Linked DNA regions of Homo sapiens: region 2 is linked to region 1. Evidence: fine-mapped expression QTL. A gene starts in region 1. The other region holds a variant in brackets. All regions are shown on one strand. Distances are from middle to middle. Region 1 holds the start of UTP4 (UTP4 small subunit processome component). Region 2 overlaps TERF2 (telomeric repeat binding factor 2).

Evidence for each region. PIP is the estimated chance that this variant, and not a neighbour inherited with it, causes the effect.
Region 2: its variant is the best candidate, but not a certain one, in a credible set for the expression of UTP4 in fibroblasts (GTEx, PIP 0.51).

What each region holds. Positions count from the first base shown.
Region 1 is chr16:69,129,971-69,135,446 of GRCh38, reverse strand. It overlaps UTP4 (UTP4 small subunit processome component), which reads right to left and starts at 2,798. Exons shown (of 17, transcript NM_032830.3): 1 at 2,758-2,798; 2 at 1,829-1,989. The coding sequence starts at 1,987. DERPC (DERPC proline and glycine rich nuclear protein) reads left to right here and starts at 2,859. Exons shown (of 3, transcript NM_001002847.4): 1 at 2,859-2,963. CHTF8 (chromosome transmission fidelity factor 8) reads left to right here and starts at 2,859. Exons shown (of 4, transcript NM_001039690.5): 1 at 2,859-2,963. RefSeq lists silencers at 2,750-3,109, 3,130-3,279.
Region 2 is chr16:69,371,479-69,376,478 of GRCh38, reverse strand. TERF2 (telomeric repeat binding factor 2) reads left to right here. Exons shown (of 10, transcript NM_005652.5): 4 at 4,124-4,210. Among named protein-coding and RNA genes, the nearest start is that of TERF2, 12 kb to the left of the region's middle. RefSeq lists an enhancer at 4,454-4,953. The variant G/A (reference allele first, on the strand shown) is at 2,467.

The DNA.
Region 1 (5,476 bases):
GCCACTCTGCCCTGCCTCTTTTCACTTTAACGTACTAATTTTTTCTTGCTCTGAGAGTCACTGACAGAGCTAAGCAATCGTATCTAGTAGGAAAGGGAATATAGGGAAAGCAGGAAACCAGCCTGAGTTAATTAATTGTTGAAGAATAAAGAAAACAGATGAAGGAGAAAAGAAAATAAGGAACACTAGGTAAGGAATGGTTGACTTATCCATTCAAGAAACATTAAGCAGTGGCTTTGTAGGAGGCGCTTGATAAATGGTGGGAATGCAGATGTGAGTATCACTGACATGGTTCCTATCCTCATAAAATTGGAAGTTCAGCATGGAAGAAAGACATTAAACAAACACACAAATTATATAGTTATAACTGTTACAAATGACAAACAGAAAAATCATAATATGGCCATGACTGTTAAAAAAAAAAAAAAAGAAGAAGAACAAGACCAAGAAAAAGATAATCAGTCTGGTATGAGGGCTCACACCTGTAATCCCAGCACTTTGGGAGGCTGAGGTGGGCAGATCACTTGAGGTCAGGAGTTCGAGACCAGGCTGGCCAACATGGTGAAACCTCGTCTCTATGAAAATAAAAAAATTAGCGAGGCATGGTGGCACACCTGTAATCCCAGCGACTTGGAAGGCTGAGGCAGGAGAGGGAGGCAGAGGTTGCAGTGAGCCAAGATCACGCCACTGCACTCCAGCCTGGGTGACAGAGCAAGACTCCGTCTCCAAAAAAAAAAAAAAAAAGAAAAAGAAAAAAAAAGAAAATCACAGGATGCAATAAGCACACGCCAGCGCATGTTCTTCATACCACAGAATGTAACCCATTTGTGGTGGTCCTGTAGTTTTTACCTTTTGATTAGTTCTTCAGGGGTGAGCTCAGTAAATCATCCCTTTCCACATTTCCTAAACCCACCTCTCAGGGAAGGCAATTCTCTGAATTGCCTTCCCTGAAGGCAATTCAATGAAGGTTCTATGCCTGTGTTTCGGTTTATCATATTTATTTTACAGGTTGGAAACTGTACACTTATCTTTCTCCCACTGGTCTTTGAGCTCCGTAAAGTTAGGGCCTCTGACATTTGTCTTAGTGCCCAGTATTTGCCACTCATTCACCGAGAAACATTTACAGAATGCCTAAATTCCAGGTACCAGGCTGCTGGGCACTGAATTCACTCATTTGCCCATCTACTCATTTATATCACAGCACCCAGTACATAACAGTCATTCAACATGAACTAAGATGTTGCACCCGAAGAAAATCACTAGTCAGTGCCCTTGGAGGGGAGAAGAAAAAGGACTAATAGACCTCTGCATACACCCAAAGGACATTTTACCTAATTTTAAATCTCCTTTACTCCCAAATGTAGACATGTAGGTCTACATTCTCTCAGACAGATGAACTTTGGAATCCATCTTCCCACATCACCAAAAAGTTTCTGATATTAAAACGTGTTATCATTTTTTCTGAATTGACAATGAAACAGTACTGATACTCCCTGCAGGAAATTTTGCTTACCAAAGCTGCAATGGTGTTGAGACTGATATACCAACAATTTCCCTTCCTGTGTCCAAAAGATCCAGCAAACCTCAGTTTCCAATGACAGGCAGTGAGATGTCACATTTCTAGGTAGGACCCTTCTAATCAACATTACACAGATTGAAACTGAGCTTCTCTTATCAGTTAGGAGATCTCAGAAGTTTGGTAGTTCTAAGCAACTTCAGAGGGGCTAGGAAGTCACTCAATCAGTTTGATTATAAAAGACATACAAGCTTCTTGAACTTCAGAAGAAATTAACATCAAAACACCATATCAGACTCCCAAATGACTTACTTTCTCCTGAAAGTAGTTTGCTGACAAGTTATAAATTTCCACAGTGCCATCTGTTCGTGAAACAGCCAATCTGTTTGACTGGTTATTGTAAGCCACACAGCGGATTCCTGATGGAACATAATTAAAGAAACGTACTCGATGGACCTTAAATTCACCCATTCCTAGGGGGCGAAAAGAGAGTCATTATTGCTATATGTTAACTGCAGTATGTCACATATAGTATTCAGTTCCTTAATATCACTGTTCTGGCTGGAAGGCTCCAACAACATCTCCCTGAAGTTCATTTCCAAATGGCTGCTAACAATGCCCCCCACAAGAATTACTCAATCTTCAAAAGCTCAGAATGGCTTGAATAATAAGGAGGCTTCAGCAAAAAATCAAAAAGGGTCCTACTCCATAGCTCCAGAGTTCCTATCTCGGGGCGCCTAGGAATCCGCATTTTAGCAAGCATCTCTCCTCAACTCTATTGCTAAGTTTGCAAACAACAGACCTAAACTGAGGTAGTGACAGTGAGGCTGATGGGGCAGGCAGAACCGAGCTCCTCTTGAGGAAGAAACGACAGGGTTTGACTTAATCTGGCTGCCTGGTCTGACGTCTGTCACTTACCCTACCCCGTCCCCCCGACGCCCGCCAACATATATACTGGCCGAGAGTAGAGACCAGGTCTTGTTCGCCCCTCACTGGCCTAGCTTCAAGGTTAGGAACCCGCAGACAGAGCAAGCGCGTTCGGTCGGGCCGGGGCGTCTGAGGCGCGCGCGGTCTTCGCCTCCCCTTCCCTCTCCCCGAGTCTACAGAGTAGCCCCCACCCCGCCTCGGGACAAGGAGACCCTCGGGACAAGGAGCTCAGCCGGACGCCGACCCTGGGCCGGCCACCTTGTAAGACCCCCCCAGCTCTCGCAGCCGCTTCCCACGCCCCTTCCCCAACTCACCAGCGGCCCCACGCTCCCCTTCCCGGTGCTCGCCTCTCTCCGCCCCGGCCCCACGTGCGCGCGCGCTCTCAGGCTCTGCCCCGGAAGTGCTCCTGGCGCATAGTCGGAAGTGCGCAGGCAGTGCTCGCGGCGGCGGCGACGGCGGCGGGAGGTTCGGTTGTCGCCCGTTGGCCGCGCGGCGCCGCGCTCGGCGGCCGCCATTGCAGGTCAGGCCGCGGGCGGGGGGCACGGGAGGCTGCGGGGAGCGAGGGCCGAGCCGGGATTGGGGGCGAGGGCGCGAGGGAGCGGGAAGCTAGGGAGCCGGGGCCGGGCGGGGCGCGCGGCTCGGAGAGAAGAATGGCGAGCCGAGGGGCGGGGAGCGCGGGCGGGGGAGGGGTGGCCGGGAAGGGGGAGGGCGGCGGGAGGGCGGCGCGGAGGTGGGGGCAAGCCCGGAGGGGCCTCCGGGGTGGGAGGGCCAGGAGTGTGGGGGAAGGGAGCGGTGTGGAGACGGAAGGCGGAGGGAAGGAAGGGAGCGAGCGGGGCGGAGCGGGAGAAGGGCGGAAAGGGTGGCCGAGCGCGGGCGGAGGACGGAGAAGGGGGCGGCGAGGGCCGGAATCTCGAGGTACGTGCGGGAAGGGGCTCTTCCCGGGGTTGGGAGGGAGCCCAGCCCGCTATGCTTGCGGGAGCGGAGTAGAACTGGAACCTAGGAAGTAGCGGGAAGAGCAGAAAGGGGAGTTCGGGGTGGGGGTTAGGACCGTGAGGTTTTGTTCCAGGTAACATTTGTAATCGTGGAGGGGGGAGGCTTCTGGGAGAGGTAATTGGAAGGGTGGTTGGAGAGTCATTCCAGGTTCTTTTGTGGGAGGGAAGCCGAGAGACGAGTGGGGTGGGGTCCTGGAGGAGTGGAGTACTTGAGAACCGGGAACAATTTGGAGAACGAGGGTGGTAGAGAAAGGACGTTTAAAGAGTAATCTTTGGGAAGAGGGTGAACGGTTTGGAAGACCACTCCAGTGGGTGGTGTGGAGGAAGGCGGTTTAAAGAATAGTTTCCCTGGGAGGCAGGAAAAGGGGTTAAAACAGCTTGTAATTTGGAGGGGGGTGGAGAAGAGGGGGGAAGCGGATTGAGAAGTCCCAGAAAGTGGGTGGGACTAGAAATAGGAAGTGTTTGTAGCTCTAGCAGAAAGGGTGGGAGGGGGCCGAGAGGGAGTGGGTGGAGAAGATGGGGGTGGGTGGGAGGAAGAGCACAGAGGGAGACTCTACGCCGGGCTAGAAAGGAAAGGGTTTGGGGGAGTACAGGGGGCCGTACCATTAAGAGGAGGACAGGCTAAGATGGGGCTGCAGAGTAGCAGAAGATGGAGAAAACTGCAGTAACTCAGATCGACTGAAGCCATCTTTTCCACCCATTGCTACAAATACCAGTAATTGATTCCCTCCAACGTGGGAATCCTAAAATGTGATGGGAAGTATCACGTGTATGCATAGCATCCACACACGTTTTTGAACACACTTCACTAATGTAAAGTTTGGAAGCATTCAATTCCACCAACCCTCCATAAGCCCCTTTTTGGAGGGGAGCAAGATTCTCATTTGGAAACAGGATTTTAGACTTAGTAACATAAGCCTTTCAAGAGACAAGATCCCCTTCAAAAGTATAGACCTGTCCCCTTCAGTTACAAAACCACGATAACACTACAAATAAAAATAATCTGTATTCGGTTGTATGTAAAACGTTCTGAGTTGTTCACTTGGTAGAAAGGCACATAGAGACATAGTCATCATATTTAGAGAAATTACCTTCCAGAACTTAATCCCTGAAGCAGTTTGGTGAACCACAACTGCCATGTTTGAATTCTACTGTTATGAAAACTTGATTTTATTCTGATGACCTGCTGCTTTCGTAGAATGCTTTAGTCCGTTATAAACATTAATATGCTAACACAGTGTAGTATTAAGACATTCTATTTGATGAATACTAAGAAAATGCCACCTTTCTCTGGGAAATCGATAGCTTGACCCTGAAGGCTTACCATGTGTCAGACAATGTGCTAAAAGCTTTACATTCATTACTCGTTCTTGCAACAGCCTTTCAAAATAGGTGTTTATGCCCAGTGTATTGTTAGGAAAACACGTGAGGTTAAACTACCCACTGTCACATATGGGATAGGTGGCAAAATCACAGAATCCAGGTCTGTATGACAAGTGAGTGCTTCACTATATTCGTAAACAAAGTATCCACCCTGGGATCAAAAAACAAAAGCTCAATAAATGCCAACTGTTGGCCTAGCAAAAAATAGAAAATTGTGAATATTTACACTCTGAAATAATTGATTTCACCCCAGTTTAGAAAAGAATGTTTAAGGGTTGAGAATTTAAAGGCTTGGTTTCCTGTTTGAAAAAAAAACAAAATTTCTAAAACGTTGTTTAGCTTTATTAAAATTTAGTTATTTGTATTGAGGTTAAACCGTTGAGTCAAAGCCTCTTTTTTGCTATAAGCCATATGTTCGGTTTAATTGGATACATATCACACTTTCTTCTGCCACATTTTATTTTGAAGGATTATGAGGATCATTGCTCAGGCTGTTCTGTTCTCTGTAAGACAGTAATCTTTTAACAATTTAATATTTAACAATTCAGAGACCAGAGGGTAAGAATTAAATTCTGTGGAAGATTAAAATGAATACTTGACAAAGAATGTCCTCTATTCTCTTGACTTTCACATTCAGGAGCAGAGGGTAAAGCTTTGC
Region 2 (5,000 bases), 240 kb before region 1:
ATTGAAAGAAAAATTTGGATTCATACTACCCAATTTTAAGAATTATGAGAAAGTTACAGTAATTACGACTATAGAGATTAGTAGAACAGAAGAGAGCATCTAAAAACAGACCCACACAAATATGACTGATTGATTTTTGACAAAGATGTGAAGGCTATTCAATGGGAAAAGGATGGTCTTTTCAACAAATGGTATTGAAACAATTGAATGTCCATATGCAGAAATGAACTTTGACCATAAGCTCACATCTTGTACAAAAATTAACTCAAAATTATAATCTAAATGTAAAATGTGAAACCATAAAACTTAGAGGAAACATGAAGGAATCTTTATGTCCTGGAGTTAGGCAAAAAAATCTTAGATAATAATTTAAAAACATCCATAAGAAGAAAAATTGATGAATAGGACTTAATCAAAATTTTAAACTTTTGCTCTGAGAAAAACACTGTTAAGAGAATGGAAAAGCAATCGACAGGTTGGGAGAAAATATTTACAAATCACACCTGACAAAGAACTGGTATCTAGAGTATATGAAGAGCTCTCAAAAGAAACAAGTCTATACAACCCTAGTTTTAAATGGGCAAAAAGCTCACCCAAAATAATGTAGATGGTAAAAAAAAATTACATGAAAAGATGTTCAACATCATTTACTCATTAAGGAAATACAAATTAAAACCACAGTAGATTCAAATACCAATTAGAATGGACCAAACTTTAAAAAATACTGATAGTGGGGCATGGTGTCACATGCCTATAATCCTGCTACTTGGGCACCTGAAGTAGGAGGATTGCTTGAGGCCAAGAGTTTGAGTTCAGCCTGGGTGATATAGACCCTATCTCAAGAAAAATTAATTAAAAAAAAACCCTAACTATAAAAAGTGTTAGTTACATATTTCAAAACATCATGTTGTACATAAGTATGTGCAATTTTCATCTGTTTTTTAAATAGAGATGGGATCTCACTGTTGCCCATGCTGGACTTGAACTCCTGGGATCAAGTGATCCTCCTACCTTGGCCTTCTGAAGTGCTGAGATTACAGGCGTGAGCCACCACACCTAGCCTATTTTTTAAAAAGCACTAGTGAGGATGTGGAGCAACTGGAACTCTCATATATTGCTGATGGGAATGCGGGATGATACAGCTACTCCAGAAAGTAGTTTGGCCATTTCTTATAAACACATTTTCCATGAGACCATGCAATCCTATTCTTGGGTATTTACCTTAGAGAAATGAGAAGTTTTACCTTAGAGTAAATGAGACTGTTTTAGCATCTCTATTTATAATAACCATAAATTGCAGACATCTCAAATGTCCTTCAGTGGATGAATGTATAAACTATAGTACATGCATGGAATGGAATACTGCCCAACAACAAGAAAAAGTGAACTATTGATAGTGTACCAACATGGATGGACCTTAAAGGCCTTATACAGAGTGAAAGGAGCCAAGCTCAAGGCTACATCCTTTAAAAAAAAAGTCCTACACACTTACGGCTTTTTTGTTCTTGTTTTTTGAGACGGAGTCTCACTCTGTTGCCCAGGCTGGAGTGCAGTGGCGCAATCTCGGCTCACTGCAACCTCTGCCTGTCAGGTTCAAGCAATTCTCCTGCCTTAGCCTCCCAAGCACCTGAGACTACAGGTGCGCACTACCATGCCCGTCTAATTTTTGTATTTTAAGTAGAGACAGGGTTTCACATGCTGACCAGGCTGGTCTTGAACTCCTGACCTCATGATCTGCCCACCTCAGCCTCCCAAAGTGCTGGGATTACAGGCGCGAGCCACTGCGCCTGGCCCTTTTTTTTTTTTTTTTTTTTTTTTTTTTTTTTTTTTTTTTTTTTTTTTTTTTTTTTTAAAGAGAGAGAGGGTCTCGCTTTACTGCCCAGGCTGGAGTGCAGTGGCATGATCATAGCTCACTGCTGCCCTCAAATTCCTGGGCTCGGGTGATCCTCCTACCTCTGCCTCCCGAGTAGCTAGGACCACAGGCACACGCCACCATGCCTGGCTACTTTTTTGTAGAGATGGGTTTTCACTGTGTTGCCCAGGCTGGTTTCAAATTCCTGGCCTCAAGTGATCCTCCTGTCTCAGTTTCCCAAAGCACTGGGATTACAGTTATGAGCCACCGGGATCAGTGGTTGCCAGGGTTAGGTGTGACTACACAGGACAGCCAAGGCAGGGTTTTGGATCCTCATTGTAGTGGATGATACAGGAGTCTACGTGTGTTAAAATTCCAAACCAGATGTCCTAAACAAGTTAATTTTGTTGTATGCAAGTTAAATAGAATTTTAAAACAGTAAGACCTGTATGATTAAAAAAGTAAAAACTTTGTATTCAAGAAAGTAAGTATAGTTTGAGCATATGTTTTTCTGCTGAAAGTGATGTATAAATGGATATGGTCATCTGAGTAAAATGAAGACTTACTTTGTACCTTCCCTGTGCAGCAAGAACTGTGCCTGCATATTCAAGGGC[G/A]TTTGACATCAGTTGCCTTCCGCCCTGTATGGCTGTGCTTAACACGTTGAGGATAGAAGCAACAGATTAGTACTTAATGAATTTCCTTGCTATTCTTCCCCTTAGTCTGTGTCTCTGTACATTCTTCCCTGTGAAGATCAAAAATATCTGTGAACCAATTTTCCTTTTATTGTTTGTTTTGAGACGGGGTATCGCTCTTTCGCCCAAGCTGGAGTGCAGTGGTACAGTCACTGCTCACTGCAGCCCCGATCTCCCAGACCCAAGTGATCCTCCTACCTCAACCTCCCGAGTAGCTGGGACCACAGGCACACACCAACATGCCTGGGTAGGTGGGTTTTTTTGGGGGAGAGACAGGGTCTCCCTATGTTCCCCAGGCTGGTCTCAAACTCCTGAGCTCAAGCGATCCTCCCACCTTGGCCTCTCAAAGTGTGGGAATACAGTTGTACAGTTGTAAGCTGCCACACCCAGTCGGCTTGCCTTTTTTTGTATGGTGGTCTTTTTAAAGAATCTGTGTCTCTCAGACAGGATTTGAGATAGCTACTTTATTCTATCATATAACTTCAAATACTCCCAATTTTTTGTTGGCTTTTCTAATTTTTAAAAATGTTCATATATATTATAACTTCCTTGTAAATGTTCAGTCACTGTTATTTTTCCTCAAGAGAACCTCATTCTCTTGAGGTTTCTTTATGGAAGGACTCTACTTTCTCTCTGTGGCTGGTGAGACCTTATCTTACCTGGAACTTTGCCCTTTTTATTTGCTGCTTGTGAATGACCTGGGTTTGTTGGCTTCAGTAGTTCCCTAGGTGCTTTAATTGAAGTTGCCAGCTGGGGTTTATGGTAGTAAGGGGTTGTCCCTTCATTCTCCTACAGAACTGGCCTTAGGCCTTTCCAGAATGGAACTAGCAGAACTCTGTGGTCAGCACATCTCTTTCTTTCCGCCTACAGTATATCCTCCCTCCCTCATCCCCCTCTTGCTTTAAAGCTTTTGCATCCAAAAAGAACAGAATCAATTGTTCTGGGGACCTGAAATTACAGGACGTAGAATGACTCCTGTCCATTCTGTCTTTCCTCAGGAGGCCCTATTGAAATTGGTTAAATGGTCTGTAATCCAGGTGATCAGATTTTGCTCTATCAGCCATGTAACAAAAGCCATTGTATTGTTGAAAAGTGACTACCTTACAAGCAGAAAGAGACAGCTTCCAGTGGTTCATAACACTTGAACAATAATTGTTTGTTTGTTTTTTTTGAGATGGAGTTTTGGCTCTTGTTGCCCAGGCTGGAGTGCAGTGGCGCGATCTCGGCTTACTGCAACCTCTGCGTCCCAGGTTCAAGCAATTCTCCTGCCTCAGCCTCCCGAGTAGCTGGGATTACAGGCATGCACCACCATGCCTGGCTAATTTTGTATTTTTAGTAGAGATGGGGTTTCTCCATGTTGGTCAGGCTGGTCTCGAACTCCCGACGTCAGGTGATCCACCCGCCTTGGCCTCCCAAAGTGCTGGGATTACAGGCGTGAGCCACCGCGCCTGGCTTTATAATTGTTAGTTTTTAAGTACAGAAATTTGATATGATGTGAGAGAGAGTTATTTTGATGTTTGATATTCTGATTACACCTGTCATTACAAAAGTAAAAAAAGATTTTTCCCCTCCTTTTTAGGCTGTCATTATTTGTATCAAAAACAAAGAATTTGAAAAGGCTTCAAAAATTTTGAAAAAACATATGTCCAAGGACCCCACAACTCAGGTAAATTTGATACATTTTTGCTCCTGTGACTTAAATTCATCTCATTGCTTTTTGTGGGGAAATAGGGAAAGGGTTCTTGGTCAGGAATATTACTTAAATATTCTCCTTTCAACATGTAACACCTGCAGCAAGTTATCTTTTATATCCAAGATAACTCACTGTAAGATTGGCTTTTCAAAATTTAGTTTTTATTAGAGAAATTGACATAAATTATTCACTTGCCTTATTTCTGTCTAGTTTATAACAGAACATTGATTTAAATGATCAGCACCAGGTATGGAGCTGACAAATGTAACACTTCTAACTTTATTTACATTAAATGGTGATCCTGCAGATGTGAGGAAACTTCTTTGGTGAGGACATAGCACCTGTTTCCTGGTGTCAAAAGTTCTGTTGGTCCCCTGCTTTTATTTTTTCTTCTTCCTTTTTATTCATTTGTTTATTTATTTTTTTTGAGGCAGAGTCTCGCTTTGTTGCTCAAGCTGGGGTGCAGTGGTGCAGTCATAGTTCACTGCAGCCTCAACTTCCTGAGCTCAAGCAGTTCTTCCACCTCATCCTCCCCAGTAGCTGGGTTCACAGCTGCATGCCACCACACATGGCTAATTTTTAAATTTTTTGTAGAGACAGGGTCTCTTTATGTTGCCCAGGCTGGTCTGGAACTCCTGGGCTCAAGTGATCCTACCACCTCGGCCTCCCAAAGTGCTGGGATTACGTGAATCATCATGCCCAACCATTTCTTCTATATACTTTTTTTTTTTTTTTTTTTTTGAGATGGAGTCTTGCTCTGTTG